Regions from separate parts of the Homo sapiens genome. Here regions 1, 2, 3, 4 and 5 are each reported to be linked to region 6. Evidence: microRNA targets listed by miRTarBase, many of them from high-throughput screens and not tested one by one. Region 6 holds a microRNA gene; each other region holds the end of a gene's coding sequence.

Region 1 (5,202 bases), not on the chromosome of region 6:
TGGGCAACAAAGGAAGACCTGTCTCAAAAGAAACAAACAGGCCAGGCACGGTGGCTCACGCCTGTAATCTCAGCACTTTGGGAGGCCGAGGCAGGTGGATCACTCAAGGTCAGAAGTTCAAGACCAGCCTGGCCAACATAGTGAAAACCCATCTCTACTAAAAATACAAAAATTAGCTAGGCATGGAGGTGGACACCTGTAATCCCTGCTACTCGGGAGTCTGAGGCAGGAGAATCACTTGAACCCGGGAAGCAGAGGTTGCAGTGAGCCGAGATGACGCCACTACACTCCAGCCTGGGTGACAGAGTGAAATTCTGTCTCAAAAAAACAGAAACCAAAAACTACCTCCTAGACTTGTAGAAAATATTAAGTAATTTTATTTATTTATTTATTTATTTATTTTGAGACAGCGTCTCCCTCTGTCGCCTGGACTGGAATGCAGTGGCACAACCTTGGCTCACTGCAACCTCTGCCTCCCAAATTCAAGCGATTCTTGTGCCTCAGCCTCTCTAGTAGCTGGGATTACAGATGTGTACCATCACACCTGGCTAGTTTTTATATTTTTAGTAGAGACAGGGTTTCCCCATGTTGGTCAGGCTGGTCTTGAACTCCTGACCTCAAGTGATCCTCCTGCCTCAGCCTCCCAAATTGCTTGGATTACAGGTGCTCCAGGCCAAGATTAAGTAATTTTTTGTGAAGCACCAAGAGCCACAGCTGGATATCATATTACTTAATCTCTCCTGGAGTTATGGTGAGATTAAACAGTTATAAGGATGCCTGGCACAGAGTCCGAGCTAAATGAGTGATGGATGTGGTTACTGGTGGTAACATGCTTTAGATATGGAAGATATTATAGGACTTCCTGCATGCCAACTGCCCTTCAATTTGTGTGGGGGGGAAGGGTGGGCAGAAGGCAGAGGCTCTCACTCATTCTCTAACATTATTGCCCCCTCTCCCACAGATGAGTCCTGCCGGCGGTGACCATCTTCCAACATAGGGATATACCTCCCTCCTTCTTATAACTGAAGATCCTGGAGCCCGGAAGATTCAGGGCAGACAGACCCTGATAATGAGCCTGGCAGGGAAGGGCAACCAACATCTTGTAACTTGCTTTCCCCACCCTGTTTCTGGGGGCAGAGCCAATTGCCCAATTTCTACCCTAATCCAAAGTCCCTGGTGTGGGTGGGGTTAAACGTGCTGGTGCATCCTAGGTCATCCAAGAGTGAGCGCCAAGTCCTGAGAAGGGGCACAGAACTCCCTGGAGGGTGGAGATGGAGCACCTGCCCCCCATGGCAGGGTACACTCTCCCCACAGCCTTCCTCCCCACCATCCCGTGGGGACTCTCGGGATTTAAGCACTCGTCTCTCTGGGAGGCCCAGACCCCACTCCATTTATAGGCACATCTCCTTCATTTCCTAGGTCACTGCCCCTTTGTTTACAGCTCCTGCCTCCTCCCTTGACCACAGCCTGGTTTACAAATTCCATCAGCTCCCAGCCCCACCTGCCAAAGTCCCAGGTTTACAAGCCACGCTTACTTGCTGTGTCTGCGTGGAATTCTCTCCTCTGTCCCCTCCAGTCTCCTCATTGGAGTGACCTGAAGGTGTGGCTTCCTCCACTTTTTCTCAGTATTACTTTGCCTTAGTTTTCCCCAAGAGGGAAGGCTGGAACTCTTAACTCTGTACCCCTTGATAGTTATTTAATTCTGTTTCTCCTAGTGGTTCACAATTGAACTGAATTGAGATGGTGTCGGGTGGCTAAGGAGACACCTCACCTCTCCTTCCCCATTGTGCCGCCTTTATCAATTGCCTGTTTTGTTTTGTTTGTTTTTTAACTTTCCATAATAAAATGGAGTTCTCTTCAACTCGTCTGCTTCTCCTTCTTTGGGAAAAAAAAAGGGTATGTGAGGGGAGGCTCTGGTGGCTGGGGGAGAGGAAAATGATGGGGGATGAACCAGGAACTCGGCACTGACATGTCAAAAGGGGTCTGGGAAGCTGCACGTGGGTTTCACGCAGGACAAGCAGGTGACATGAGAAAGGGCAGTTGAAGTGTCCACTAGACTGGAAGTGCCATGAGGGCTGACTACATCAGCTGGATTCACTGCAATATCCTGTACCTGTCAACTAGTAGACACGGAATTATTTCTAGAATGAATGACAACAAATGAATGAATAGAAGAAAAGGGTTAAAATATTACAGAGGACACTTTGAGTTGAAGGGTTCTAGTATTCAGAAGCCTGCTGCCATGAAGGCAGCTAGGTAGTGTATGACACAACCCATGTGGCTAATCCAGGGATACTTACTTAAAGAGCTGGGGCTACGAATACTAAATCTGAAATTGCTGCAAAATGAAGTAAGTATGTACAAGAGTCAGTTTCCTGGAAAAGGTTCCCCTCTGATAGACAATGGATTTTATATCGTTAAAGGCCTAAAGGCCGGGCACGGTGGCTCACGCCTGTGATCCCAGCACTTTGGGAGGCCGAGGCAGGCGGATCATAAGGTCAGGAGATTGAGACCATCCTGGCTAACACGGTGAAACCCCGTCTCTACTAAAAATACAAAAAATTAGCGGGGCATAGTGGTGGGCACCTGTAGTCCCAGCTACTCGGGAGGCTGAGGCAGGAGAATGGCATGAACCCGGGAGGTGGAGCTTGCAGTGAGCTGAGATTGCGCCATTACACTCCAGCCTGGGCAGCAGAGTGAGACTCCATCTCAAAAAAAAAAAAAAAGGTTTAAAAACCATCTTGATAGTGCATGGCTTTGGTGCCCATGTAGTTGATATTTGGAATTTTCCCATTTCAAAGAATATCTTATACAAATGTGGAACATCAATATTTTACTCATCAGGAAAATTTGTTTGTTTGTTGTTAGCTCTCCAGGCTAACAAAGATATGGTTGAATAGTTATAGTCCTTCTACCACTACAAGTTGCTCCTCTCAGACTGGTCAGAGGAGGCCCCACACCTTTACTATAAAACAAAATATATGAGACAAATTGAACTTAAGCATACGCCAAAGGTTTTCAATTTACTAGCAAGAGAACAAGCCAGGTGTCAAAAGACTCAGCCAGTTCAGAGAAGGTCTGGGTAGGGAAGGAAACAGAATGATTATATTAGTAGCCTGTTAGGTAAAGGTCTTAAAAAGTTTCCAGTTGTGACCCAGGAAAACAGAGTTAGGAAGCTCCGAGGTGCCAGGGGTGCTCACAGTCCATCTCAGAAACAGAAAACAATGCATTCAAGAGGTCAGGCCAGGTGTGGTGGCTCATGCCTGTAATCCTAACACTTTGGGATGCCAAGGCGGGTGGACTGCCTCATCTGAGGAGTTTGAGACCAGCCTGGGCAACATGATGAAACCCCGTCTCTACTAAAATACAAAAAATTAGCTGGACGTGGTGGCACGCACCTGTAGTCCCGCCTACTCAGGAGGCTGAGGCAGGAGAATTGCTTGAACCCAGGAGGTGGAGGCTGCAGTGAGCCAAGATCACGCCACTGCATTCCAGCCTGGGCGACAGAGTGAGACTCCGAGACTCCCTTTCCAAAAAAAAAAAAAAAAAAGTCAGTGATGTAGATCCACTTGTGGCTATTAATAAGAACAATGTTTCATTTCCTAACAGTAGTGCCTGGTAACTGCAATTAATCACAAAAGTATGATGCAGGATCAAACAAATCAGACAGCAGAGCATCGAGTAACAAATTCAGCTTTTTGTTTTGTTTGTTTTTTTTTTTTGAGCATAGTCTTGGTCTGTTGCCTAGGTTGGAGTGCCTGACCTCGGCTCACTGCAACCTCTGGCTCCTGGGCTCAAGAGATTCTCCTGTCTCAGGCCCAGTGCGGTGGCTCACGCCTGTAATCCCAGCACTTTGGGAGGCCGAGACGGGCGGATCATGAGGTCAGGAGTTTGAGACCAGCCTGACCAACATGGTAAAACCCCATCTGTATTAAAAATACAAAAACTAGCTGGGCGTGATGGCATGTGCTTGTCACACTTGTAATTCCAGCTACTCAGGAGGCTGAGGCAGGAGAATCACTTGAACCTGGGAGGCGGAAGTTGCAGTGAGCCGAGATCGTGCCATTGCACTCCAGTCTGGGCAACAGAGCGAGACTCTGTCTCCAAAAAAAAAAAAAAAAATTCTCCTGTCTCAGTCTCCAGAGTAGCTGGGACTACAGGTGCACACCTCCACACCTGGCTAATTTTTTGTAGAGATGGTGGGGTCTCACCCTGTTGCCCAGGCTGGTCTCAAACCCCTGGTCTCAAGATATCCTCCTGCCTCAGCCTCCCAAAGTGCTGGGATTACAGCAAGAGCCACTGCACCTGGCCTTGCTTACTTTTAAATAAGCAGCCACCAGTGATTTTCTCAAGCTGTTAAGCAAAAATGCAGAACACAGTTTGCCTGTTCCTTAGTTTGGAGATTTTGTCTTTAACAACTTTCCCCAGTTCCCCAGTTTCTTCCTGCCTAGAGGTCTTCCCTTATACCTGACCTGTCTTCACTCCTGCTGCAGGCAAACCAGTCCTAGCAACGGTCACTTTTTTGTTTGTTTGAGACAGAGACTTCCTCTGTTGCTCAGGCTGGAGTGCCGTGGTGGGATCTCGGCTCACTGCAAACTCTGCTTCCCATGTTCAAATGATTCTCCTGCCTCAGCCTCCCGAGTGGCTGGGACTACAGGCGCACACCACCACGCCAGGCTAATTTTTATATTTTTAGTAGAGACAGGGTTTCGCCATCTTGGCCAGGCTGGTCTCGAACTCCTGACCTCAGATAATCCGCCCGCCTTGGCCTCCCAAAGTGCTGGGATTACAGGCATGAGCCACCGCGCCCGGCCAACAATGCTAATATGTTTTATGAGCATGGACCCGATCTTCCAATCTGAAATAGAATTTCATTCCTCCCTTACTTTGTATAGTTTTTGGCTCTATAAAATTTCCATACTTTCTTTATTATGTATCCTGTCCCTCCCCCACCGCAAAATGTAAATTTGGTAAGGAACTTTTGATTTGTCCTCTGCTATATCCCAGGGACGGAAAGCAATGAGCACACATTAGGCATCCATTAAATTAATTTCACTTGTTGAATGAATGCGTGAGCGAAGCACTCACAGACTGACCATCAGGGGGCGTCAGAGAAACTGGACAGAGGCGAAATGAAGAAAAAAGAATTACCCCGAGTTTTCAGGTATGGTTCCGCGAGGTTTGAACTCGCTCGGCCACCGT
Region 2 (5,202 bases), not on the chromosome of region 6:
GCTGTTAGGAAGGTGCATCTCCTAAGGGTAGAATAAAGTATTCTTGCAGTCTTTCTATTTTAGTGTTTCCCAAAGTATATTTAAGGCCAAGGTAGGTCTATACCACTCATGTTTATGTTTAGTCTTATTATGGTGGTGCTTATCTGGAAGACAGGGTAGTGATGCTGTCGTGTTGTGTACTTGTTCTTTCTCCCGCTGCTGCATATAATTTTTCAAGGGCTTTTTTATTTTTTTCATGACTCCTTTAGTGCTCAGCACATAATAGCAATCAAGCTGTTATTGGATATCTGAACAATGTTGAAGCAAAAGTAAACTTGGCATTGTTATTTTGTTATCTGTGAGTTGTTTGACCTGATATAAATTCTAGGTATCAGTTTAGGTCAGTCAGGAGCGCTTTTCTTTCCCTGTGCATTTCTCTGTGCTCATATGATACAGCCCTGATGTTAGCTTTTCAAAAAGGACTTTGTTATCTCTGTGTGTTTCCACTAGGTGATACTATCAACCAAAGCACCCTGCCCTCACAGCAGAACCGTTTCCCAGACTACCTTGAAGCCATTCCTGGGACAAATGTGGACCTTGGAACACTGGAAGGAGATGGAATGAACATAGAAGGAGAGGAGCTGATGCCAAGTCTGCAGGAAGCTTTGAGTTCTGACATCCTTAATGACATGGAGTCTGTTTTGGCTGCCACCAAGCTAGATAAAGAAAGCTTTCTTACATGGTTATAGAGCCCTCAGGCAGACTGAATTCTAAATCTGTGAAGGATCTAAGGAGACACATGCACCGGAAATTTCCATAAGCCAGTTGCAGTTTTCAGGCTAATACAGAAAAAGATGAACAAACGTCCAGCAAGATACTTTAATCCTCTATTTTGCTCTTCCTTGTCCATTGCTGCTGTTAATGTATTGCTGACCTCTTTCACAGTTGGCTCTAAAGAATCAAAAGAAAAAAACTTTTTATTTCTTTTGCTATTAAAACTACTGTTCATTTTGGGGGCTGGGGGAAGTGAGCCTGTTTGGATGATGGATGCCATTCCTTTTGCCCAGTTAAATGTTCACCAATCATTTTAACTAAATACTCAGACTTAGAAGTCAGATGCTTCATGTCACAGCATTTAGTTTGTTCAACAGTTGTTTCTTCAGCTTCCTTTGTCCAGTGGAAAAACATGATTTACTGGTCTGACAAGCCAAAAATGTTATATCTGATATTAAATACTTAATGCTGATTTGAAGAGATAGCTGAAACCAAGGCTGAAGACTGTTTTACTTTCAGTATTTTCTTTTCCTCCTAGTGCTATCATTAGTCACATAATGACCTTGATTTTATTTTAGGAGCTTATAAGGCATGAGACAATTTCCATATAAATATATTAATTATTGCCACATACTCTAATATAGATTTTGGTGGATAATTTTGTGGGTGTGCATTTTGTTCTGTTTTGTTGGGTTTTTTGTTTTTTTTGTTTTTGGCAGGGTCGGTGGGGGGGTTGGTTGGTTGGTTGGTTTTGTCGGAACCTAGGCAAATGACCATATTAGTGAATCTGTTAATAGTTGTAGCTTGGGATGGTTATTGTAGTTGTTTTGGTAAAATCTTCATTTCCTGGTTTTTTTTACCACCTTATTTAAATCTCGATTATCTGCTCTCTCTTTTATATACATACACACACCCAAACATAACATTTATAATAGTGTGGTAGTGGAATGTATCCTTTTTTAGGTTTCCCTGCTTTCCAGTTAATTTTTAAAATGGTAGCGCTTTGTATGCATTTAGAATACATGACTAGTAGTTTATATTTCACTGGTAGTTTAAATCTGGTTGGGGCAGTCTGCAGATGTTTGAAGTAGTTTAGTGTTCTAGAAAGAGCTATTACTGTGGATAGTGCCTAGGGGAGTGCTCCACGCCCTCTGGGCATACGGTAGATATTATCTGATGAATTGGAAAGGAGCAAACCAGAAATGGCTTTATTTTCTCCCTTGGACTAATTTTTAAGTCTCGATTGGAATTCAGTGAGTAGGTTCATAATGTGCATGACAGAAATAAGCTTTATAGTGGTTTACCTTCATTTAGCTTTGGAAGTTTTCTTTGCCTTAGTTTTGGAAGTAAATTCTAGTTTGTAGTTCTCATTTGTAATGAACACATTAACGACTAGATTAAAATATTGCCTTCAAGATTGTTCTTACTTACAAGACTTGCTCCTACTTCTATGCTGAAAATTGACCCTGGATAGAATACTATAAGGTTTTGAGTTAGCTGGAAAAGTGATCAGATTAATAAATGTATATTGGTAGTTGAATTTAGCAAAGAAATAGAGATAATCATGATTATACCTTTATTTTTACAGGAAGAGATGATGTAACTAGAGTATGTGTCTACAGGAGTAATAATGGTTTCCAAAGAGTATTTTTTAAAGGAACAAAACGAGCATGAATTAACTCTTCAATATAAGCTATGAAGTAATAGTTGGTTGTGAATTAAAGTGGCACCAGCTAGCACCTCTGTGTTTTAAGGGTCTTTCAATGTTTCTAGAATAAGCCCTTATTTTCAAGGGTTCATAACAGGCATAAAATCTCTTCTCCTGGCAAAAGCTGCTATGAAAAGCCTCAGCTTGGGAAGATAGATTTTTTTCCCCCCAATTACAAAATCTAAGTATTTTGGCCCTTCAATTTGGAGGAGGGCAAAAGTTGGAAGTAAGAAGTTTTATTTTAAGTACTTTCAGTGCTCAAAAAAATGCAATCACTGTGTTGTATATAATAGTTCATAGGTTGATCACTCATAATAATTGACTCTAAGGCTTTTATTAAGAAAACAGCAGAAAGATTAAATCTTGAATTAAGTCTGGGGGGAAATGGCCACTGCAGATGGAGTTTTAGAGTAGTAATGAAATTCTACCTAGAATGCAAAATTGGGTATATGAATTACATAGCATGTTGTTGGGATTTTTTTTAATGTGCAGAAGATCAAAGCTACTTGGAAGGAGTGCCTATAATTTGCCAGTAGCCACAGATTAAGATTATATCTTATATATCAGCAGATTAGCTTTAGCTTAGGGGGAGGGTGGGAAAGTTTGGGGGGGGGGTTGTGAAGATTTAGGGGGACCTTGATAGAGAACTTTATAAACTTCTTTCTCTTTAATAAAGACTTGTCTTACACCGTGCTGCCATTAAAGGCAGCTGTTCTAGAGTTTCAGTCACCTAAGTACACCCACAAAACAATATGAATATGGAGATCTTCCTTTACCCCTCAACTTTAATTTGCCCAGTTATACCTCAGTGTTGTAGCAGTACTGTGATACCTGGCACAGTGCTTTGATCTTACGATGCCCTCTGTACTGACCTGAAGGAGACCTAAGAGTCCTTTCCCTTTTTGAGTTTGAATCATAGCCTTGATGTGGTCTCTTGTTTTATGTCCTTGTTCCTAATGTAAAAGTGCTTAACTGCTTCTTGGTTGTATTGGGTAGCATTGGGATAAGATTTTAACTGGGTATTCTTGAATTGCTTTTACAATAAACCAATTTTATAATCTTTAAATTTATCAACTTTTTACATTTGTGTTATTTTCAGTCAGGGCTTCTTAGATCTACTTATGGTTGATGGAGCACATTGATTTGGAGTTTCAGATCTTCCAAAGCACTATTTGTTGTAATAACTTTTCTAAATGTAGTGCCTTTAAAGGAAAAATGAACACAGGGAAGTGACTTTGCTACAAATAATGTTGCTGTGTTAAGTATTCATATTAAATACATGCCTTCTATATGGAACATGGCAGAAAGACTGAAAAATAACAGTAATTAATTGTGTAATTCAGAATTCATACCAATCAGTGTTGAAACTCAAACATTGCAAAAGTGGGTGGCAATATTCAGTGCTTAACACTTTTCTAGCGTTGGTACATCTGAGAAATGAGTGCTCAGGTGGATTTTATCCTCGCAAGCATGTTGTTATAAGAATTGTGGGTGTGCCTATCATAACAATTGTTTTCTGTATCTTGAAAAAGTATTCTCCACATTTTAAATGTTTTATATTAGAGAATTCTTTAATGCACACTTGTCAAATATATATATATAGTACCAATGTTACCTTTTTATTTTTTGTTTTAGATGTAAGAGCATGCTCATATGTTAGGTACTTACATAAATTGTTACATTATTTTTTCTTATGTAATACCTTTTTGTTTGTTTATGTGGTTCAAATATATTCTTTCCTTAAACTCTTCTTTGTTGTTTTTAACAATTGATATTTGAAACTTTTTTTTTTTTTGGCTTCTTACTGGTCTTCCAATAGAACAAGAACTGGCAATAAAAGGTGATTACAGTAGTAACTGGGAAGACAAGTTAAACTTAAGTTTCGTTGTGCTTTAAGTTAGGCTTGACATTTGGAACTTTTGAAGTATGGATATATAATTCTTTTAACTTTGTGTTCTTACTCTTCACATACACCATCCTCATCCGTGGTAGTGTCTAAGCAGAACTGCGTCTGCTTGATTCTTAAATGACTTCACTACATGTGACGGCACAGAGGACACTGAGAACATAAGAACATGGCACTGTCTTTCAGAATGGCCTTTGGTTTTACTTCTTTAATATATTCTCTCAGGCCAGGCGTGGTGGCTCACGCCTGTAATCCCAGCACTTTGGGAAGCCAAGGCAGGCGGATTACCTGAGGTTGGGAGTTCAAGACCAGCCTGACCAACATGGAGAAACCCCGTCTCTACTAAAAATACAAAATTAGCTGGGCGTGGTGTCGCATGCCTGTAATCCCAGCTACTCGGGAGGCTGAGAATATATATATATTCTGTTCTATTTTGGAGGTCATGAGAGAATATTATATATTAGTAAAAAGCATTACTTACTGGCTTATAAATAAAAACATTCACAAATTGAAGTGGTAGGTCCTGACCTTTGAATAAGAAGTAGATTTGAGTATCTTTAAAGATGGCTGGACGTGGTGGCTCACGCCTGTAATTTCAGCATTGTGGGCGGAGGCTGAGGCGGACAGATCACCCGAGGTCAGGAGTTCGACAGCAGCCTAGTCAACATGGTGAAACCCCATCTGTACTAAAAATACAAAAATTAGCTGGGCATGGTGGTGCATGCTTGCAATCCCAGCTACTTGAGAGGCTGAGGTGGGAGGATCACTTGAACCCGTAAGGCAGAGGCTGCGGTAAGCCAAGACCACGCCACTACACTCCAGCCTGCGTGACAGA
Region 3 (5,184 bases), not on the chromosome of region 6:
ATTGCAGTGCCTTAGGAGTACTCTCCTGTAAGATACACTTGACTATGTTGCAAGCAACCATGGAGCAACAAATAGACCCACTATTTGTATTTATCCGTTTTGGACTGGGCCAATTTGGATTGCTGGTTTGACTCTTAGAACCCCTTCTAATATGTGAGAGTGACCAGCCTCTAGCAATCCGGCTGGATTCATCAGGGTTAAGCCAGTAGGTGACTGGCCGTTGAGTGTTGACATCCTGGTGCTGTCCCTCCTCTGACCACTAGATTTCAGATTCTTACCGAAGAGGATGAGTGATCTTTCTTCAGAGCAGTGCTCACTAGATCTGGTTATCCAGTGGACAGGATGGTGTCACGATGCTACTTAGGATGAATCTTAATACCAATTTCCCTTCATTCCCACCTAGCAACCTGGTGGCTGCCTATGAGAAAGCAAAGAAAAAGCATCAAAACAAACTGAAGAAGTTAGAGTCGCAGATGATGGCCATGGTGGAGAGACATGAGACCCAAGTGAGGATGCTCAAGCAAAGAATAGCTCTGCTAGAGGAGGAGAACTCCAGGCCACACACCAATGAAACTTCGCTTTAATCAGCACTCACGCACCGGAGTTCTGCCCATGGGAAGTAAACTGCAGCAGGCCACTGGGGACAGAAGGGCCCATGTACTTGTTGGGAGGAGGAGGAAAGGGAAGGCTGGCAGGTAGGTCGGCACTTGGACAATGGAGTGCCCCAACTCAACCCTTGGGGCGACTGGCCATGGTGACATTGTGGACTGTATCCAGAGGTGCCCGCTCTTCCCTCCTGGGCCCACAACAGCGTGTAAACACATGTTCTGTGCCTGCTCAGCAGAGCCTCGTTTCTGCTTTCAGCACTCACTCTCCCCCTCCTCTTCTGGTCTGGCGGCTGTGCATCAGTGGGATCCCAGACATTTGTTTCTGTAAGATTTTCCATTGTATCCTCTTTTTGGTAGATGCTGGGCTCATCTTCTAGAATCTCGTTTCTCCTCTTTCCTCCTGCTTCATGGGAAAACAGACCTGTGTGTGCCTCCAGCATTTAAAAGGACTGCTGATTTGTTTACTACAGCAAGGCTTTGGTTTCCAAGTCCCGGGTCTCAACTTTAAGATAGAGGCGGCCATAAGAGGTGATCTCTGGGAGTTATAGGTCATGGGAAGAGCGTAGACAGGTGTTACTTACAGTCCCAGATACACTAAAGTTACAAACAGACCACCACCAGGACTGTGCCTGAACAATTTTGTATTGAGAGAATAAAAACTTCCTTCAATCTTCATTTTGGAGGCAGGGCTGGGAAGGGAGCGCTCTCTTGATTCTGGGATTTCTCCCTCTCAGTGGAGCCTTATTAATATCCAAGACTTAGAGCTGGGAATCTTTTTGATACCTGTAGTGGAACTAAAATTCTGTCAGGGGTTTCTTCAAGAGCTGAGAAACATTATTAGCACTTCCCGCCCCAGGGCACTACATAATTGCTGTTCTGCTGAATCAAATCTCTTCCACATGGGTGCATTTGTAGCTCTGGACCTGTCTCTACCTAAGGACAAGACACTGAGGAGATACTGAACATTTTGCAAAACTTATCACGCCTACTTAAGAGTGCTGTGTAACCCCCAGTTCAAGACTTAGCTCCTGTTGTCATGACGGGGACAGAGTGAGGGAATGGTAGTTAAGGCTTCTTTTTTGCCCCCAGATACATGGTGATGGTTAGCATATGGTGCTTAAAAGGTTAAATTTCAAGCAAAATGCTTACAGGGCTAGGCAGTACCAAAGTAACTGAATTATTTCAGGAAGGTCTTCAATCTTAAAACAAATTCATTATTCTTTTTCAGTTTTACCTCTTCTCTCTCAGTTCTACACTGATACACTTGAAGGACCATTTACTGTTTTTTTCTGTAGCACCAGAGAATCCATCCAAAGTTCCCTATGAAAAATGTGTTCCATTGCCATAGCTGACTACAAATTAAAGTTGAGGAGGTTTCTGCATAGAGTCTTTATGTCCATAAGCTACGGGTAGGTCTATTTTCAGAGCATGATACAAATTCCACAGCCTTCTGTTCGCTGGAGGATACTCCAGCCACCAGTTCGGAGGGCAGACAGCTGTATCCTAAAAGCAACCACTGAGAGGCCAGCAGTGAGGCTGCCCATCTCCAAAACGAAACAACAGATCAACTGGTATCAGTCTAGAAGGACCAGCTTTGGGGTGCTTTGATCACTATGAAAATGTTCACTGGTTTCTGTCAATCATTTGGTCAAAGTTAGTTCCTGTGATTTTTTTTTTTTTTTTTTGAGATGGAGTTTTGCTCGTCACCAGGCTGAAGTGCAGTGGCGTGATCTTGGCTCACTGCAACCTCTGCCTCCTGAGTAGCTGGAATTACAGGTGCCCGCCACCATACCCAGCTAGTTTTTTTGTATTTTTAGTAGAGACAGGGTTTCACCATGTTGGCCAGGCTGGTCTCGAACTCCTGACCACTGATCCACCCACCTCGGCCTCCCAAAGTGCTGGGATTACAGGCATGAGCCAATGTGCCTGGCCATTCCTGTGATTTTTTAGAATTTTTCACTTTTCATATAAAGTTGCATTTTATCATGAGGAAAATGTTTTGGCTGAAAAACATATGCCCCAAAAAAAAAAAAATCAGTTTTCACTATTTTTCCAGCTTGCCTAGGGAAACGTCCTCCCCTGAGCAAAGTGGGATGTGCATGGCTCTTTTTTGTGATTAAGCAGGCATCAAATGGGCAGTTTTCATTTTCACTGACACAGAAACATGTGGCTGAAGCAGGAATAAAATCCTGCCTACTGACTTCTGTCTCCATTCTTGCTCCAGGTAAAATCAGAGAACCTCCCCTTCTCTGAGAATTCCCCCAGGCAGAGGCGGCTCCAGCTCCTGTTAAGGGCCCCAGTTTTACTCATGCTACCTGACCTTAGTTTTAGTACTTTCAAATGTGATTTGGGTAAAAACTATTTTGCAGGCAAAAGTGTTAATTTTTTATAAATATGTATAATAAAAAAGCTATAAAAGTTTTTCCTTTTCTTGTATTTTTCAAATACTCCCCAAGACACAATCCTTGAAGGTGAACTAGGTGGCACTTGATTATGCTAATTGTGGGAGCTACTGAACTAAACTATACTGATTAAATTAAATGCTTGCAGGTTCCTGGGTAATTTTCCTTTGTGAATAACCTGGCGCTACCTGAATTTTTCTCTAACAAACATCTCCAATGAGGGTAAACAATGATCTTGATTCTAATTTATATGAGGTTAAAAACCTTCAGATTTCGTATTTTGAATTGTTCTCCCTAGTTTCCTCAGTGGTTACCCCCTTTTAGTCAGTAACCATCTCTGTTCAGAATTCAGTCTTTGGCTTTTGAAGAAATGGGCACAGAGCCAAAGGACCCATTTCACAGTTCCCTTGGAATATATTTCCCATTGTTGGACTGAGGCAAACAAAACCAACTGTGCAAATCACAAGCAAAAGAGACTTCTGTCCGTAGTTGCGAGTGCCATCAGTGTGAGCTTACCAGCTACAAAAATCTGTCATGGACTGGGGAACAGTATGATTCCTTATTGAAACTTTCATCCTCATCGGCTGGCTTGTCAGCGTTCTGAAGTTAATATCCATGCTGCCTGAAACAAATGTTATGTTTAACTAGCACTTAACTTTTAAAATTGCTTAATTCTCCTTTCAGATGCATGCACTAAGTCTTCTCTGAGCCTGCAGCAATATTTTAGAGGGACCTCTTCTAAGTCAGAGCCTTGACATTCTACTCCAAAAGGAAGTCCAAATTAGAGCCCATAGGCTTTTTCTTAAAAGCTGTTAAGGAGTAGTAAAGAAAGTTACCACTCTAAGGAAAACATGAAACTATCTGAAAGTCTTCTGGTTCCTAACTGGATACAGATTAGATTATTTTAAATGAGAAAAAAGTGCACCGTAGTTACCCGATCAAGATTGGACTGCCTGTGTCCCTGGCATGAATTAAAGAACCTCCATAGTTGCTTGTTCCCTTCTGAAGGTGTTTCCTATGGCCCACGAGAATTATAAAGCAATCACTTTTTAAGTCTATCAGTCAACCTTAATAGCTCTCAAGAGTTTCGATTATCAAGCTTTAAAGTGATAACATATCAAGATGACTATTAAAAAATAAACATCTCTGAAAGTGTCCTTTCCTCCATAAGGCTTTAAACAATTTGCAAATTCTTAATTGGGAGTATGTCCCAATCATTCTATTAAACTATTTACAGCTCTACCTACTTCTAGATTCAGCAAACAGAGCTACTAGTTAGAGTATTTTGAGAGCCAAAATAGTAAGAGACTTCTGTAATGGTTGAGATTTCTGCACTGACCTTAATTAGGGTACCGCCATAGGGCTACCAAAGTTTTTAGTGAGGGCTGGGGAGGTGGAGCATAAGTAACATTTTTTTTCTGCAGAAGGTGATGGCTTTGTAGAACACTATAAAATTTTTCAGGAAAACATACAGCAAATTTTCTTATCCAGTGGGAACAGCCTATTTGACAAGGAATGATATACAAGTTTGATTCACCTTTGAGCACTCTTATAGAGTTTACAGAAGAGGCGTAACTGGTTACAAAACAAAAGTTACGCCTTCACTATCCAGTTCTTAAAGTTTATCCACATCCTACAAATCTTATGTTCATGTAGGTCAGGTTAAAGTAAGCTCCAAACTTGTGGCCTTCAGAAGCATCTCCTGTTTAACACACCTGAAATTACTCTAACTTAATACATTTGTATTCTCTAAGAAATAATGCTGACTGCTGTCACCACAGCATCACTGATCTCTCAGTGGCTGTTAAAATATAAACAAGTGGAAAAAAAGTATACAAGTTGATAGCAGCTGTTCATGTATTCTTGTTTTGCTAATACCTGTGTAGAGAAAGACAGTTTCACATGCAGATCACCATACATTTTTGCTTAAAGGTTACACTGGGTAAACTGTTTGTTTATCACATTACATCTGGGTGAGATTTTGCATGTGACCAAGAGGAAGAAATCATTCAGTCCCGGAAATAGCAACTGCTATGTAAAACCACATCCTTGACTAGTACTTCATCTTTCCACAGTCATCCATCTGCTAATCAGGTGAAATATCAGCTCAGCAGAACAAAGCAAGTTATACACAAATTTCCCCCACATTCACACTGATGCCGTACTTAGTAATT
Region 4 (5,202 bases), not on the chromosome of region 6:
TCTGATTTTTTTCAGTGCTCTTAGTGATGGCAGCAGTAGGTGGCTACTTGATGTGGCGGAATTGGCAACACAAGAACATGAAAAGCATGAACTTTGACAATCCTGTGTACTTGAAAACCACTGAAGAGGACCTCTCCATAGACATTGGTAGACACAGTGCTTCTGTTGGACACACGTACCCAGCAGTAAGTCAGCTTTGTGTCTTTATACACCATGGCTTGAAGTGAGACTTTTCAGAAAGGAGACCTGGGTGAGAGAGAGAGAGCCATTAGGATGATGGAGTTACCAAACACTTCATCTGCTACCTGGCTATTAGACAGACAGTATAGCCTGTTAGAACATAAGTCACTCAGTTGATCAGCATCTAACCCTCACCAACTGACAAGTGGGTCAACTTAAAGTCACCACTATATTAAGATATTTTTGGTTATAGAAATGACATGTAAATACTAGCATGAACCAAGTAGCTCATTACTGAACTATTAAATCCATTGCCTACTGGATATTTGAAAGTAAATTAGCATATCATATATAGGGGAGTTGGCTTAAAGTCAGTGTATTGAGTAAGATTCACTTAGCCAAAATTATTATATGCTTTGCTTTAAAAAGGTATCCCACCGCCCTTAGTATAGCTAGCTTTTCTTCCAGCAATAGTCACTCACTTGTTCTTCAGATGAAACCCAAGTGGAGTATTTGGCCTTCACGTAGGAAACAGGCTGAACAAAACAAGTATTGATCACTCCCCTCTCAAACTCCGGTGAAACATGGAACAGTGGTCAATTCTTGACACACACATGGCTTTTCACATTTTTCCCCAAGACTTATGATCATTAAGTAGAAAAGACAGAATTAGTCACACTATCTTATCTCACTACCAAGCAGGTATAGTTGAATTCAAGTTAAATGCATGAATGATACAACTCAGTATTCTTTTGTATCTGACTGACTTTTCTTCTAAGCACTCTGAGTGTTTGAATGACCAACTCAAAAGCAAGGTCCATTTTAAAGACTAGAGTTGCCATCAGTGAGTGATCACCAAGCTCATTCTATACTTCTTCTTTTCCACAGATATCAGTTGTAAGCACAGATGATGATCTAGCTTGACTTCTGTGACAAATGTTGACCTTTGAGGTCTAAACAAATAATACCCCCGTCGGAATGGTAACCGAGCCAGCAGCTGAAGTCTCTTTTTCTTCCTCTCGGCTGGAAGAACATCAAGATACCTTTGCGTGGATCAAGCTTGTGTACTTGACCGTTTTTATATTACTTTTGTAAATATTCTTGTCCACATTCTACTTCAGCTTTGGATGTGGTTACCGAGTATCTGTAACCCTTGAATTTCTAGACAGTATTGCCACCTCTGGCCAAATATGCACTTTCCCTAGAAAGCCATATTCCAGCAGTGAAACTTGTGCTATAGTGTATACCACCTGTACATACATTGTATAGGCCATCTGTAAATATCCCAGAGAACAATCACTATTCTTAAGCACTTTGAAAATATTTCTATGTAAATTATTGTAAACTTTTTCAATGGTTGGGACAATGGCAATAGGACAAAACGGGTTACTAAGATGAAATTGCCAAAAAAATTTATAAACTAATTTTGTACGTATGAATGATATCTTTGACCTCAATGGAGGTTTGCAAAGACTGAGTGTTCAAACTACTGTACATTTTTTTTCAAGTGCTAAAAAATTAAACCAAGCAGCTTAACCATGGTTTGTGCCTGTTCCTCTAGGATGAACTCCTATCCTGAGTAGTACCAAGTGTTCTAACTAAATGTGTGAGCTGTAGTTCTTGATGTTGTATAACTAAGCCTGTAATTGGGCTGGTTTCTCTTACACCCTAGCACAGTTAAAAAATGAAGTACTGTTTAACATTTGCTCCCGAAATATTTCTTACTGTGTAAAAGAAGCTAGCTTAGTCTGTACCTAGAATTCCTCTTGGTTAGAGGAGTGAGTTTCTTTTTTTTCCATTAACTTGTTTCCTGATCGAGAAACACGTGCTAAGATTTCTATGAATTCTGCTTCTTTATAGTTAAGTCTCTGTTTTCCATGTTCTGTCATTTATATAGGTCAAGGACAAGTGCCTTCTAAGGCATGGATAAGGGCTTTCTTCTTATGAAAGTCTAGACTGTCTTACTGTGAAGATGGCCAGGGAGGATAGCAAGCAATGGCATTCTTGAACAGTCTAAGGCAGGTTTCTCAGTGTGGTCCTGAGAACAGAAGCATCTGCATCACCTGGGAATGTATTAGAAATGCAAGTTCCCAGCCCCATCCCAGACCTACTGAATCAGAAACTCTGGGGGCGAGGGCTGAAACCTGCTTTCATAAGCCCTTCAGGCGATACTGATGTAAACTAAAGCTTAAAAACCACCGTTTTACTGTGACTTCATGAAGAATATAATTGCAATATCACCTAAATTTTTATCCTGGCTGGGATGGGGCAGATTCTTACTATGGACAATTTCTGGAACTTACAGTATGAAGAGCAGATGAGGAGTTTGAGACAAAGAAAAAATTGTACAGGGAGTTTAGTGAATTTTCCATCAGGTTGGCCATTACTTTCTTTCTCTAAAGTCTCAGGATGTCTGGAAGCAAGGAAAGACAAAAGACTTGAAGCACCGGGTGCATGCTGTGTGTCACAAGTGAGGTGGAGAGTTGGCTGTGGAAGGTACAGCAATTCCTCTGGAATTAAATGACCGACCAACACAGTACCAAGAGGATGAAGAGAAGATGTTTTGCGTTGCTACGTGAATCAGTGGATGACTCATATTTCACTTGCATATGAAATATAAGGCAGTTAACATCTTGTTTGTGGCTTAAGCAAGGACATTAATCCTACTAGATGAAGGGGAAGTTGGTTCTGTTGTCTTAAGGGATGCCCCCTTGTGATTTTGGTCAACTGAATGAAAAAGAAAAGATAGCCTTGGACTTTTTTTTCATGGGAGGTTTGGAGGTCAAGCATGTAGAAGGAAAAGGCTGTAGTCATGAATATAGAACTGTCTGCTCTCCACCTTTTCCTCACTCTACATTTAGTCATCACACTGAACAGGATGTGGCCTGCTGACAGTGAGTAGCTGAAGTGCCTGTTTGGTAAGTAGGTTAGCATTCATCATGAACTCTGAAAGCCATTTCAGAGTTTGGCTGCTGCTCTGACCCTGCTGTGGTACAAAAAACATGGATTTTTTTTTTTTTAACTGGAGTAATACCAAATTCCCTTTAGAAGCTTGAAGTTTGATACTATTGCTTTCCCCATTATAAGGATTATACAGTATTAATTAATTATAAGGCCCAAAGTTTGTTTTGGCAAATAAAGTATTATTCTCTATCATCATCTTTTGAATTCCTGTCCCTAGTATGTTCTTTCATGTTCTGGGTAAAATTTCCAACCCTCAAAGAGTCTAAAACGTCTCATTTTTTTTTACCACGTCCTCCCCAGTAAGAAGCCAAGGTACAACTCATTGTACCTACGAGGTACAAACTCATTTGTAGAAACAAAGTAACTAGATATTCCTATTGAAATAAGAATAGATATATTGGTGGGCCAGGCATGGTGGCTCACGCCTATAATCCCAGCACTTTGGAAGGCCAAGGCAGGAGGATCACTTGAGGCCAGGAGTTCGAGACCAGCCTGAGCAACATGGTGAGACCCTGTCTCTACAAAAAAAAAATTTATAAAAATAAAAGAAAAAAATAGTTATATGACTAAACTACTAGTCAATACAGCTTGCAATAATAGTGCATGAATGATAACAGGCCTCGGCTTTATCACCCAAAAAATAACTTGAATTCTATGTGAAATGTGTTAGGATAAGTTTGCTCTGTCTCTAGAGTTCAATGTAGAAGATAATTAAGAGGTAAAATATGAAGCTTATCATACACTAAAGGAGAATATTTGGAGTTAGATGAGCCTGTCACACAAAGTGAAAGTGGACCCTCCAGAAATTTTAGGAATTGCCACAAAGATTGATGATAGATGAATAAACAGATTTGTGGCCTCTGGTAAAGAAATCCAGCCAAGTTCCTCTGTCCAAATTTTTAAGTGCCCTTTGCAAGCTAATCTATTTGGCAAAAAAATAGTCCCAGTTGTTCAACTAGCTCCCTTAAAACATTCTAGTAGGTGTTTTAAAGCCTAGGTATCGCTGCCTCTTTAGTTCTTGATGAATACAAGGCAAAAAAAAAAAAAAAAAAAAAAAAAAAATTGAGGCTTTCACTTTGGCATTTGCTTCTGTTCCTTGTATCTGTGGAAGTCAAGTAGCCCTTCTCAAAAATGAGAAGCCAAGCTTTAAATAGCAAACTACAGGGTATTAAAAGACTAACTCTTCAGTTAAGAACACTGTAGAAATGGTAGACCAACTTAAAGTCTACCTTTTAACAATCTTTACCCCAAACCTAAAGATTCTAGGGGTCACTTATCTCTATTACGTAATCTAACTGGAATAATTTCCTAGAATTCTTACTAGTGAAATCTTACCCAAGTAAAACAATTTATTATTTTGAATCCAAATGAAAGCTATACTGTTTGCTTTCAATGGTGGCAAAAACTTGCAAAAAGCAGATATACTTTTGCTAATTTAAGTTGAAGTACTATGAATACAACCTGCTAATCTTGATCCCCAAATCTGAGCCCTTCAGTTTCATAATTGTTTTATCCTGAACGTAGTTGTGACATAGACATTTCTCAAAAGGGTCTGATACATCAAACTCCTAACAAGTAGGAGCAGCAACTAGCTAAAGAGTAGAAAGAAGCTTCCCTTATTGTGGGTGATGAGGCGGTGCCTAAAAACCACATATATATAATCCCCTGGGTATTACATATTCTGCAAGCCCTGTTAGTGGGGAGATGGTAGTGGCAATAGCAGCGATAGTTGCGTCAGTGCTAACTGCTGCTGCTGCCCGTTCTGTTGGCGGCTGCTGGCCAAGTGTGCACACTTAGCCCTGGTTGAGGTGCATTGTCTGCTGTCGTCTGTTAAGCATCTAACCGGAGTGGGAGGGCACATCAAGCGATTTCACTCTCTTAAAGAAAAGGTTTTTAGGTATTTTTGGTATTATATAGTCTCTAAGGCCAGAAGGGGCTTATAATGACTTCTCTTCTAGAATTGTAATACTAAAAAACTACTCGAGTAAATATCCTAACAAGTATGATTTTTCTTGGGAAAACTAAAAATTGTACATCCATGCTTCAGCCATATCATGG
Region 5 (5,202 bases), not on the chromosome of region 6:
CAAAAGGTAAAGGGAAACAGGAGAAAGTAATGTTGATAGTACATTTTATTTAGCCCAATATATAAAAAATATTATTTCAACATGTAATCAATAGAAAAATGATGTGATATTTTACATTCTTTTTAAAAAATATTAAGTCTTTGAAACCAGTGTGTTCTTACACTTACAGCCCATCTGAATTTGGCCCAACCACACTCCAGTGCTCCAAAGCCATAGATGGCCAGGGGCATCCACACTGGACAGCACAGGGCTAGAGGCACTGGGTGGGCCCTTCTCTATTTCAAGCTCAGTGGTCTGGATGTGGGCAGAAAGAGGAGTCTGGATCTGGGTTAAAGCTACAAGAACTCCCTCCCCAGGGTTAACACCAATATTTTCTGTAACACTCCCCTGCCGGTATTGAAGAGAACAGAAAGAAGGGCAAAGGAAAGAAAATAAACAATTTATTTTTCTTTTATTGTTATTTTTAGAGACAGAGTTTGGCTCTGTTGCCCAGGCTGGAGTGCAGTGGCACAGTCATGGCTCATTGCAACCTTGACCCCTGAGCTCAAGCAATCCTTCTGCCTCAGCCTCCTGAGTAGCTGGGACTTACAGGCGTGAGCCACCATGCCTGGCTAATTTTTATTTTTTATTTTTGTAGCGATGGAGGTTCACTGTGTTGCCCAGACTGGTCTCAAACTCCTGGGTTCAATCAATCCTCCCACCTCAGCCTCCTAAAGTGCTGGGATTACAGGCTTGAGCCACCGTGACTGGCCCTTATTTTTCTTTATATCCACAGCATATTAGTAATAATACACCATTGTACACAACCTTGCCTCTCCTAATAGAAAGCACGTTCTTTCTTTATAGAAATAAAAGAAAAAAACCCAAATCCCAAGGCTCTGACTGAGGTCCAGCAAGGATTAAGGTCATCAGGTACCAAACAGGATCCAAGGGTAAATAAAGGGAGAGTGTGGGCTTACCTGGAGACTCCCTAAGCAGAAAATGAGAGCTTGGGGCTACAGTGAGGGGGCCACTCCACTGTTCAGGTCTGTGGGCTCATCCTTCATTCAGCGCTGAGCACGTGAATTTGGGCATAGAAGATGGTGGTTAAAGCTTGAATAAAAAGGCCCAAGAACCAATAGAAACTGACGGAAACTGATAGCATACTGACAAAACACCTTATCCTCTGCCTCTTGCTGGTGTCAATGTAAGAAAAGATCTGAGATTTTAAGAACAACAGGCAGGGGGCAACATAGTGAGACCCCATCTCTACAAAGAATAAAAAATTAGCTGGGTGGAGTGGTACGTGCCTGTAGTCCCAGGCACTTGGGAGGCTGGGGTGGGAGGACTGCTTGAGCCTGGGAGGTTGAAGCTGCAGTGAGCTGTGACTGCACCACTGCACTCGAGCCTGGGTAACACAGTGAACCCCTATCTCAAGCAAACGAAACAAAACAACAAACAAACCAAAAAACAAAGAGGACTCTGAAAGGTGTTTCAAACAACCAAACGAAAACAAATACAGGCTTGCTAGAGAACTATTTGAAAAAGGATCTAAAACTTCTCAGCCAAAGCTTTTGGGGCCAGTTCTGCTGGAAAGAGGACTGGGTTTAAACTGCATGGCTCTTTGCAGTCATCAGAACCTCCATTTGCTTAAATGGCACTTGGAAAGACAGGTATAAAATGACACTTGGACAGATGCCACTTTCTGCAAGTGGAAAAGAACTGGTCTCCATTGTATAGAGTTTTACAGGAGCAAGAGAATAAGGACAATTCTAAACCCAGATTTTCTATTTGACCCTCAGTCTCTAGAAAGTTTGACATCCTAGATGAAGAACAAAAGTAAGTTGAACACGGACACAGAGAGAGGAACAACATACACCGGGCCTGTCGGGGGGTGGGGAGGGAGGGAGAATATTAGGAAAAATAGCCAATGCATGCTGGGCTTAATATCTAGGTGACTGGTGGATAGGTGCAGCAAACCACCACGGCACACATTTACCTACGTAACAAACCCGCACATGTACCCCAGAATTAAAAATAAAAAAAATTTAAATTAAAAAAGTAGAGACTCTTCAAAGTGAGAAGGTATGTCAGGCAGCTACTATTATTTTTCCTCCAAATTAATAAGTGTAAGGTACCTGTTTAATCAGCTGGAGGTTAGAAAAAAAATAATATAAATATTTTTCATGGAAACAAACAAGACAAAACAACAACAACAAAAGTAAGTTGAAAGCCATATGTGTTAAGGTCACTCTTAGCATTTTTACCTTACATGACAAGCAGAGACCAGGAAAAGACAAGGACATGAATTTAAGGTACTCAAGTTCCAAATACACGAATCCATTGCTAGTTGTTTCTTTTTCTCTCTTTTCTCAACAAGTTGGGGAACACATGCAGAGGCAACAACAGCCACCGACTGAGTTGACTATATTCTCCATGGGGCTGAGTATGGACAAGGCGTATTTCCCGGACGCCATGGGCAGGGGGTCTCCATCAATGACGTGGATATTCAACACTACAGGGCCTGGCTCCCTGCTTGCGGAGGACTCATGGGTCACCCTGAATGGCCCAAACTCTCTGATACCTGGCAGAGTGGTAAGGTATTTGAAACATCTATTAGGAACAGAAATATTTATAGTTAGTCATTATTTTCTTAAACCTTCTTGGTGGGTTCAGAAACAAGTGACCATTTTGTGTAAATTCATTTATTTTGGAGCAATGAGAACACATGGACATAGGGAGGGGAACATCACACACCAGGGCCTGTCAGGGGATGGAGGGCTAGGGGAGGGATAACATTAGGGGAAATACCTAATGTAGGTGACAGGTTGATGGGTGCAGCAAACCACCATGGCACGTGCATACCTATGTAACAAACCTGCACATTCTGCACGTGTACCCCAGAACTTAAAGTATAATAATAAAAAAAAGAAAAAAGAAGTTCATTTATTTTGACTCCTACAAAGGCAAGGAATAGGGTTTTTGTTGTTGTTGTTGTTTTTGAGACTGTCTCGCTCTGTTGCCCAGGCTGGAGTGCAGTGGCGTAATTTTGGCTCACTGCAACCTCCGCCTCCCAGGTTCAAGCAATTCTCCTACCTCAGCCTCCTAAGTAGCTGGGACTACAGGCACACAACACCACATCAGGCTAATTTTTTTGTAGTTTTAGTAGAGACAGGGTTTCACCATGTTGGCCAGGTTTGTCTTGAACTCCCGACCTCAGGTGATCTGCTTACTTCGGCCTCCCAAAGTGCTGGGATTATAGGCGTGAGCCACTGCGCCTGACCAGGAATAGGGTTTTAATACAATTTTTCATCTGGCCTGAAAAATATACTTCAGTGTTCAATGATTTGAAATCTCTGAGATATCAGGGAATGAAAGGGATTAAAAGCTTTAAGAAATATAAATATAAATGTGTATGTGTGTGTGTATACATATACTATTTTTTTTTTTTTTGCCCAGGGAAGACATCTGTCAGTGCTCATAAACCCTGTTTCCTCTGGGGATAAGTTAGTACCAGCTTAACCTGAGGGTGGGCAAAAAAAGGACATGCAGAATTCAACGCAACACACATCCTGACAAGTTTATAAGGACCACGAGAAGTTTAGAGGCAGGAAATAAATAGTAACACCAACCATAAAAAGGCTGTCACTCACTCTAGAGTTTAAAATGCTCGTACGCAGGTGGCGGTGGGCCTTAGGCAAGCCAGCATGACAGCAAAGAAAGGACGGACCCAGAGGAGACTCCAAGGATGTAAAAACATGAATGAAACAAAACATACAACCAAGCCTCACCACAAAAATGACAACCGTGTGAGGTAATGCATTTGTGAGCTAGATTTAACCATTCCCAAAGCATTGTGTTGTGCGTGATAAATGCGCACTGTTACGTCTGTCAATTTAAAAATAAAAATGAGAAAGGCCGGGTGCAGTGGCTCATGCCTGTAATCTCAATACTTTGAGGCCAAGGTGGGAGGATTGCTTGAGCCCAGGAGTTTGAGACCAGCCTGGCCAACACAGTGAGATCCCCATCTCTAAAATAATAAAAATAGAAAAAATGAGACGGGTCTGGTGGTGCACATCAGCTACTGTGGATGCTGAGGCAGGAGGATGGCTTGATCCTAGGAGGTCAAGGCTGTAGCGAGCTGTGATCGCACCACTGTGCTTCAGCCTAGGCGATAGAGTGAGGCCTTGTCTCTAAAAAATAATAATAAATAAAAATTTAAAATTTTAAAAATGAAAAAAAAAAAAGACAACCAAACCCCTTAGGCCCACTACCTTGCACTGAAAGCAGTGTTTGGGAGAGAGCATGTGGCATCCAGAGGTGTGAAGCTCAGTCGAGGCGAGCAGAGCCAGCCCATGAAATCCTGTACTTCCTGTTTCTGCAGAACCAGCTACAGCACGGTTGAGAGAGGTTCTCCAAATGGGAAGATGTAACAGACCGCTCCTCTGCAGTGACCTGCAGACCCCCAGAAAGGGTGCTCCTTGAAGCACCAGGGCCTCGGCCTCATCAGCCACCACCACATTCACTTGGGTGAGGGTGATGGCACTGCCCACCTGGCCTCACTGTCCTTGCATTCCTCTTTCTGACACATCCAACAGGGAGCTATGAGACCAGGGGCTCGTACACAGGTGTACAAGCTGTTCTCCCGCAGCAGCCTGTGAGTCTTTCTCTTGACCGTCTTGTTCAGGAGCTCTTCCGCTCTGAGAAAACCAGCAAGGCCTCTCCAAGCGCACCGAGCAGGAGGCTGCAAACAACAGCAGAAGGTCAGCTCTCCACTCCCCCGGGACCCCTGAGCTGCCTGGCGCCCACATACGCAGGGCAAGGGGTGCTTCCCCTCATCCTGCAACTGAGACTCATCACCAGCCCGAACTGCCATGCTTCCAGGTCAAGCCCAGGAATCGCTCCTATCCCTCAGGGCAGACCTCAGGTACACATGGGAGGTGAGAAGGCAGGGAGGCGGGCTCGATACCTTCCCTTGGGGAAGAAGGTGAAGCGTCCCACACATCCTGACCAGGTGAGGATGATGCACTGGGTTAGTGCTCTCTGGCAGAAACACAGACTTCTGGCAGGAGAGATCCCATAGAGGCCTCTGGTGCTGTTGGCAAATTGGGCTGATGGATAGGAAATCACACAGGTATCCACACTCTTAAAATTAAGGTGACAATCTCAGTTTTCATTTCATTTAAACTACAGAACATTTAAAGGTGAAAATACAAGTGGGGA
Region 6 (5,202 bases):
CTGTTTCTTGATTAGGGTGTTTATGTGCAATTTTTGAAGTCATCAAACTGTATACTTATAATATTTGCTCTTTTCTTCATATTCTACCTCAATAAAAATGTGAACATATGCATGAACATACATACCCAGATACGTATGTGCCTGAGTGTGTGTGTGCGCGTGTGTGTGTGTACAGGCATATAAGTTTGTAAATTTAATCCAGTATCAAAACTCAATGAAAACCCATTTTTTTCTAACGTGGCTGTGACTAATTATTTAAGGATTGCAAACTTACTAAACAGTCCAAAATCTTTCAAACCAATTTAAATCAAAGCATAATATTATCGAAAGATTTAAATTTATGCATCACTTTTCCGTGATGGAATGCTAAGTAGATCCTATCCAATGCTTACTTCAGATCCACTTCATTTCCAAAATGCCACTGAAGCATAAGTTAATTAAATTACATAGATTCTAGGCAGTGATGGGAAAAGTAATATTTGATTAAGTGCATATGCCTGCAAAAATCCCTCCGTTGCCATACGTGCTGATACATCAGCTGCTTAACTGCTGGCATTTTTAATCTATCCAAAAGGAAGACATATTTAAGTAGGTTAGTTATTCCTTGGCTTGTGAAGTGCTATCATTTTTGTTGTTTGCTAATAGTCCTGTAAGGCAGAATTCATTCAAAGCCAGACAGGAAATGCAATGACATAAAACCTGGTATTTAGAGTGCATATGCTCAGAATTCACAGCGATACTGTGTCGTAGGTGGTGGTTTCTTGCAGGCATTGCATTTCTCTTGATTCATGATAATGTTTGAAGCTTTGAAAGTGAAATTGACTAAAATTAATTCTACTTGTGAAACTGCCCTCCGGAAAACTGTTCATGTCTATGTGTATCAATGTGCTAACATAGCAATAGCATTTAAAGGCTTGACAATAAAGGCAGTTACTAACAAATAAAACATTAGAAAGGGCTTTTTTAACAAGTAAATTTCAGGGGAATGGTTTCAAGTTTAGACAGAATTATATACAAGTTCCCAGATGTTCATATAAATATTAATATATCAGTTATTTTCTATTTGACTCAATTATGCACAAATCAGCACATAATAATTTAATCAAGCTCTTCATCTCTCTTTGACAATACATTGCATCATGGAGTAGAGAAAGAATGTGAAATTCAAGGTGGCTAGTCTACTGCTAAACTCTGATGAAATGACACAGAATAATGATTTAACCACCAAACTAAGAAAAATCCTTCATTTTCATGTACATTTTACCTATGTCCATTCACTTATCTAATGATCCTATACATATTTATCAAGTATTAGTATGTGCAGGGCTATGTCTTCGTTGCTAGAGATACATCTTGTGACTCACCAATTCTCTGTCCTCATGGAGTTTCTATTCTAACGGGGAAACAGAATACTGGCAGAAAACAAACCAGTAAATACATCATGTGTCAGATATTGATGAGACACGTGGAGAAGAATTAGGCAAGGTAATTTGCATAAAAATTGTGAGATGAGATGGAGTGCTGATGTTGTTATTTTAGTTGAGGGATATGGACAGGGTTACTCGAAAGGTGGTATTGGAGTAGATAACTGAAGGAAGTGAGAGATACCCACGTGGATACCTGAGGCAGGGCTGCTCTCAGAAACTCACCTAGAGTTTGCCATTAAGCTTGCCATTACTACTTTCAGAAGAACTCAGAATATTAATTTACTTTCTCCACATTCCCTACAGTATGGATGAAGAAATATCACCACGTTCTTTTGTTTGTCTAGACACACAAAATATCTACAGTAGTTGGAGGTACAGACAGAGCTGGGACTAAGGCTTGATTCACCTATTCATAAGCCAGGAAGGAACTCTTGGTTGAATGTAAAAAACAAAAAATATGGTCATATTGCAAACAGAAAAAAAAAAAGTCAGCTTCTAAAAGGATAAAATATAGGGCAAGTTTCTTGGCAGGATTTTAAATGATTCTGTGGAACTTCATTATGACATATTTGTCCCTAAACATTATATGTAAGTTTTTATTTTTAACATGTGCTTCTTCCTCTTAGAATGTCTGTTTACATACTCTTCTTGTGCATTTTAAAAAATTTATCTATAATGTGCAGTTAAACTTTTCAGCGCATTGTTTCCCGAAAACTCCAAGCTGAATTGTTCTCGGTTCTTTGTGAATTATTAGGTCAGTGCAAAAGTAATTGCGGGTTTTGCCGTTGCTTTTAATGGTAAAACCCACAATTATGTTTGTACCAGCCTGATCCTAAGCAATCTCATTATCGTCTAGATTCTGCCACTTTTCATTGTATTATTATATCTATTTTTTCACTAACAGAAATAATTTTTAGTGTCCCTAATGTTTAGTGTTGTGCATATTTTAAAATCTTAATGTTTTCCAAATAAATAAATGAACACGAGATTAACTTACAGGTAGAAAAATGTATAAAACCTCATCAAAAATGATGGCTCTCTAATCAGTATCCTTGCTATACATTGTAAAGGGACATTAAGTATCCACCCAGCCTTTAGAGGTGGAAGACTGGCTCTACCACTTAATGGTTGTATAATAGTAAACACTTTGGTAAGCCTCAGTATCCTGAGTTCTAAAATAAACATATAAATGGTGTTTGTCCCAGTGGTCTGTTTAGGGTCACAGTGACTAACGTATATAAAAGATATAAAAGTGTTTTGTAAATTTTAAAGTGTTTTTCACCTCTTCATTTTTATGACTAATTCTAATATTATCTTATATTTGAAAAGCATAGGGACATAGGAAGGAATTAACCGTGTAACAGATAATGAACTAAAAATTTTCTTAAAAATAATTGACTGAAAAGATATATTGGGTTGAACCTATACTAGTATAAATAGTAGTTCAATAAATCCAAGCTAATTATTGGAGGCAAGAAAACTACAGTGGAAATCTTTGTACTTATCATGAAAGAAGCCTTGTAAAATTTATACAGGAATAACTGTCAACTCCATCACATGCAGGGGGTACAGAATGAGGTAGAACAAAGACAGATACCTATGGAAACTGAGAAGGACTCAGATGGTCTCGTTACTATATGGAACCAAGTTTCTGCTTAGTGACAAATCAGAAATTTATTATGTTTTCTTGTCAGGAGATGTGTACTCAATTGCTGATTATTTCAGAATTAAACCTATGCTAATGGTTTACTATCAGATCCATGTTAATTAAAAATTTAAACTTGAAAATGATTCTGAGATGTCCTTGATATGTGAAGTGCTATTTTAATTTGTTTTGAAACATTCTCCATAATTACAAGCTATACAGAAAAAAAGATCTGATTTTTTTAGTCTTCAAGTCCACAAAAATAGGGACTAATAAAGAAAAGGAAGAACCAGAATTACTTTATATAATTCAGTCAACTTTTTGACACACTTGTAAAACTATTATATTTTAGAAATGTGCAATTAATAGGCATTTTCATGTTTTATACACATATTAAGATGGGTAGTTTTTGTTTTGATGCTATAGAAACATATTTGATCAATATTTTCTCATGGTAAAGCAAAGATTTTCTCAACACACATCGGCAGCACGTTCTTCACATTCATTTGGTCAGGAGATTTTTGTGAATAAATGGGATTTCACATTTATTCTTATATTCATAATAAAATATAAGAATTAGTGCACTTGGCCAACCGTGTAGATTATCCACTTCAGCATTTTGCCTCTGACAAGCAACAAGAAATATATTGTCGAATGTACTGTCTTCTACCTGAATATTACTCTAAAAATTAAGCAGTACATGCCCAAACTGTTGATTTTTTTCAGACTACTCCAAATTCAAACTGTGTCAATTCTGACTAGAAAACCAAACCTCATAAAATTATTATACTATGTCAAGTAATATTTCTTTTTATTTGCCCTCAGTTTTCTTCTCTGTTGGTTCAAAGGAGATTCTTGTTAACTGAATTCAGTTGAAATATATCCTTAGCCTTCATAATTGCAGAATCATTCTTTCTTCAGCTTCACAGTTTTTTTTATCTTTTCAGTCTAGAGTCTACATCATTTAAGTCTGTCCCCAAAAGGCAGACTCTGTCCCTTTGATGTTTTTTGCATGCTGTGATCTGGACCTCAAAACCTTTCATTTTATCATTCTTGTGCAACAATACATATAGAAGAAGCAGGTATAGACTCAGTATTTTGCAGAAGAAAAGCATTTTGTGTGTGTATATGTTTTAACAAATTATATACATTTCTAATGATGTCAATGTTGTGATTTTTAATTTAAAAAATTAAGACCATTTTGAATAGAGTAACACATTAATTTTCTTTTTTTCTTTTTTTTTAACAATGAGAACACTTGGACACAGGAAGGGGAACATCACACACAGTGCCTGTTGTGGGGTGGGAGAGGGGGGAGGGATAGCAATAGGAGATATACCTAATGTAAATGAGGAGTTAATGGGTGCAGCACACTAACATGGCACATGTATACATATGAAACAAACCTGCACATTGTGCACATGTACCCTAGAACTTAAAGTATAATAAAAATATATAAAAAAAGAGAAAATACAGAATCAAGAAATAAATAAATAAAAATAAAACAAAACAAAAAAAGTAACACATTAATTTTCTTAAGAAAGTAATTCCCTAAACCATAAAAATGTCCTGGTAAATATGTAATCAAAGAGATGATATTATAAGCAAAAAAGTAAAACTAGAACAATCAAATAAACACAATGCTAGGGTAATGTTCTTCTTCCTTAGGAAAGCCAGGTGAATAAAAATGAATATTCATGAATTTGTTGAATCTTGAAACAATTTTTAGCATCTCAGAAATAAATTTGCCTTTTTTATAAATGCAATGCCTAGTAATCTCCAACTGTTGTCCAGTCAGTTATTTGTATCCACTAGTGACTGTCTCAAAATTCTCCTTGACTTCTTATCAGGAAGATGGGGAATAATTTTTTTCCATCTGATAGGTGTGGAACAAAGCAGCCTCACCCTGAGGCTGACTTCAGTATGTCAAACAAATGGCTGTTCTCTCACAAATAAATGACAATAAGCCTGTTGGTTGCTTTCTGAATTCACACTGATAGGGCTCCCTTCCAGGGCCCTGAGTGTGCAGCTGTTCCTTCTTAACACAGACTCAACAGGTTCATGACATTATTTTTTAATGGAGTTTCTATAGAAATTATGTTTTAAAAATTCTCATCTGCATGAGATATG

The links. Region 6 holds the annotated microRNA hsa-miR-548as-5p (AAAAGUAAUUGCGGGUUUUGCC, at 2,190-2,211, shown strand). A microRNA usually pairs through its seed, bases 2 to 8, with sites in the 3' UTR of a target mRNA and lowers its output. Matches are read on the target gene's strand: a 7mer-m8 pairs with bases 2 to 8, a 7mer-A1 pairs with bases 2 to 7 and ends in A, and an 8mer does both.
Region 1: miRTarBase lists PPP1R18 as a target of hsa-miR-548as-5p. Seed matches in the 3' UTR shown: 7mer-m8 at 1,629-1,635.
Region 2: the mRNA of YAP1 is a reported target of hsa-miR-548as-5p. Seed matches in the 3' UTR shown: 7mer-A1 at 855-861 and 7mer-m8 at 1,263-1,269.
Region 3: the mRNA of MCC is a reported target of hsa-miR-548as-5p. The part of its 3' UTR that is shown has no 7-base or 8-base seed match.
Region 4: the mRNA of VLDLR is a reported target of hsa-miR-548as-5p. Seed matches in the 3' UTR shown: 7mer-m8 at 1,264-1,270 and 7mer-m8 at 2,564-2,570.
Region 5: the mRNA of SLC35D4 is a reported target of hsa-miR-548as-5p. Seed matches in the 3' UTR shown: 7mer-A1 at 2,888-2,894.

Annotation. Positions count from the first base shown.
Region 1 is chr6:30,673,048-30,678,249 of GRCh38, reverse strand. PPP1R18 (protein phosphatase 1 regulatory subunit 18) reads left to right here. Exons shown (of 3, transcript NM_133471.4): 3 at 962-1,861. The coding sequence ends at 981. Among named protein-coding and RNA genes, the nearest start is that of DHX16, 2.6 kb to the right of the region's middle. RefSeq lists a silencer at 3,152-3,291 and an enhancer at 4,933-5,202.
Region 2 is chr11:102,229,213-102,234,414 of GRCh38, forward strand. It overlaps YAP1 (Yes1 associated transcriptional regulator), which reads left to right. Exons shown (of 9, transcript NM_001130145.3): 9 at 490-4,212. The coding sequence ends at 728. Among named protein-coding and RNA genes, the nearest start is that of BIRC3, 86 kb to the right of the region's middle.
Region 3 is chr5:113,022,702-113,027,885 of GRCh38, reverse strand. It overlaps MCC (MCC regulator of Wnt signaling pathway), which reads left to right. Exons shown (of 19, transcript NM_001085377.2): 19 at 404-5,184. The coding sequence ends at 584. Among named protein-coding and RNA genes, the nearest start is that of DCP2, 48 kb to the right of the region's middle.
Region 4 is chr9:2,652,765-2,657,966 of GRCh38, forward strand. It overlaps VLDLR (very low density lipoprotein receptor), which reads left to right. Exons shown (of 19, transcript NM_003383.5): 18 at 16-185; 19 at 1,069-5,202. The coding sequence ends at 1,104. LOC105375957 (a long non-coding RNA gene) reads right to left here. Exons shown (of 3, transcript XR_929436.3): 3 at 1-246. Among named protein-coding and RNA genes, the nearest start is that of VLDLR-AS1, 33 kb to the left of the region's middle.
Region 5 is chr18:23,293,345-23,298,546 of GRCh38, forward strand. SLC35D4 (solute carrier family 35 member D4) reads right to left here. Exons shown (of 15, transcript NM_032933.6): 15 at 2,669-4,723. The coding sequence ends at 4,663. Among named protein-coding and RNA genes, the nearest start is that of SLC35D4, 140 kb to the right of the region's middle.
Region 6 is chr13:92,487,974-92,493,175 of GRCh38, forward strand. MIR548AS (microRNA 548as) reads left to right here and starts at 2,190; the gene lies at 2,190-2,247. All of the region lies in intron 7 of GPC5 (glypican 5), which reads left to right. All of the region lies in intron 1 of GPC5-IT1 (GPC5 intronic transcript 1), which reads left to right.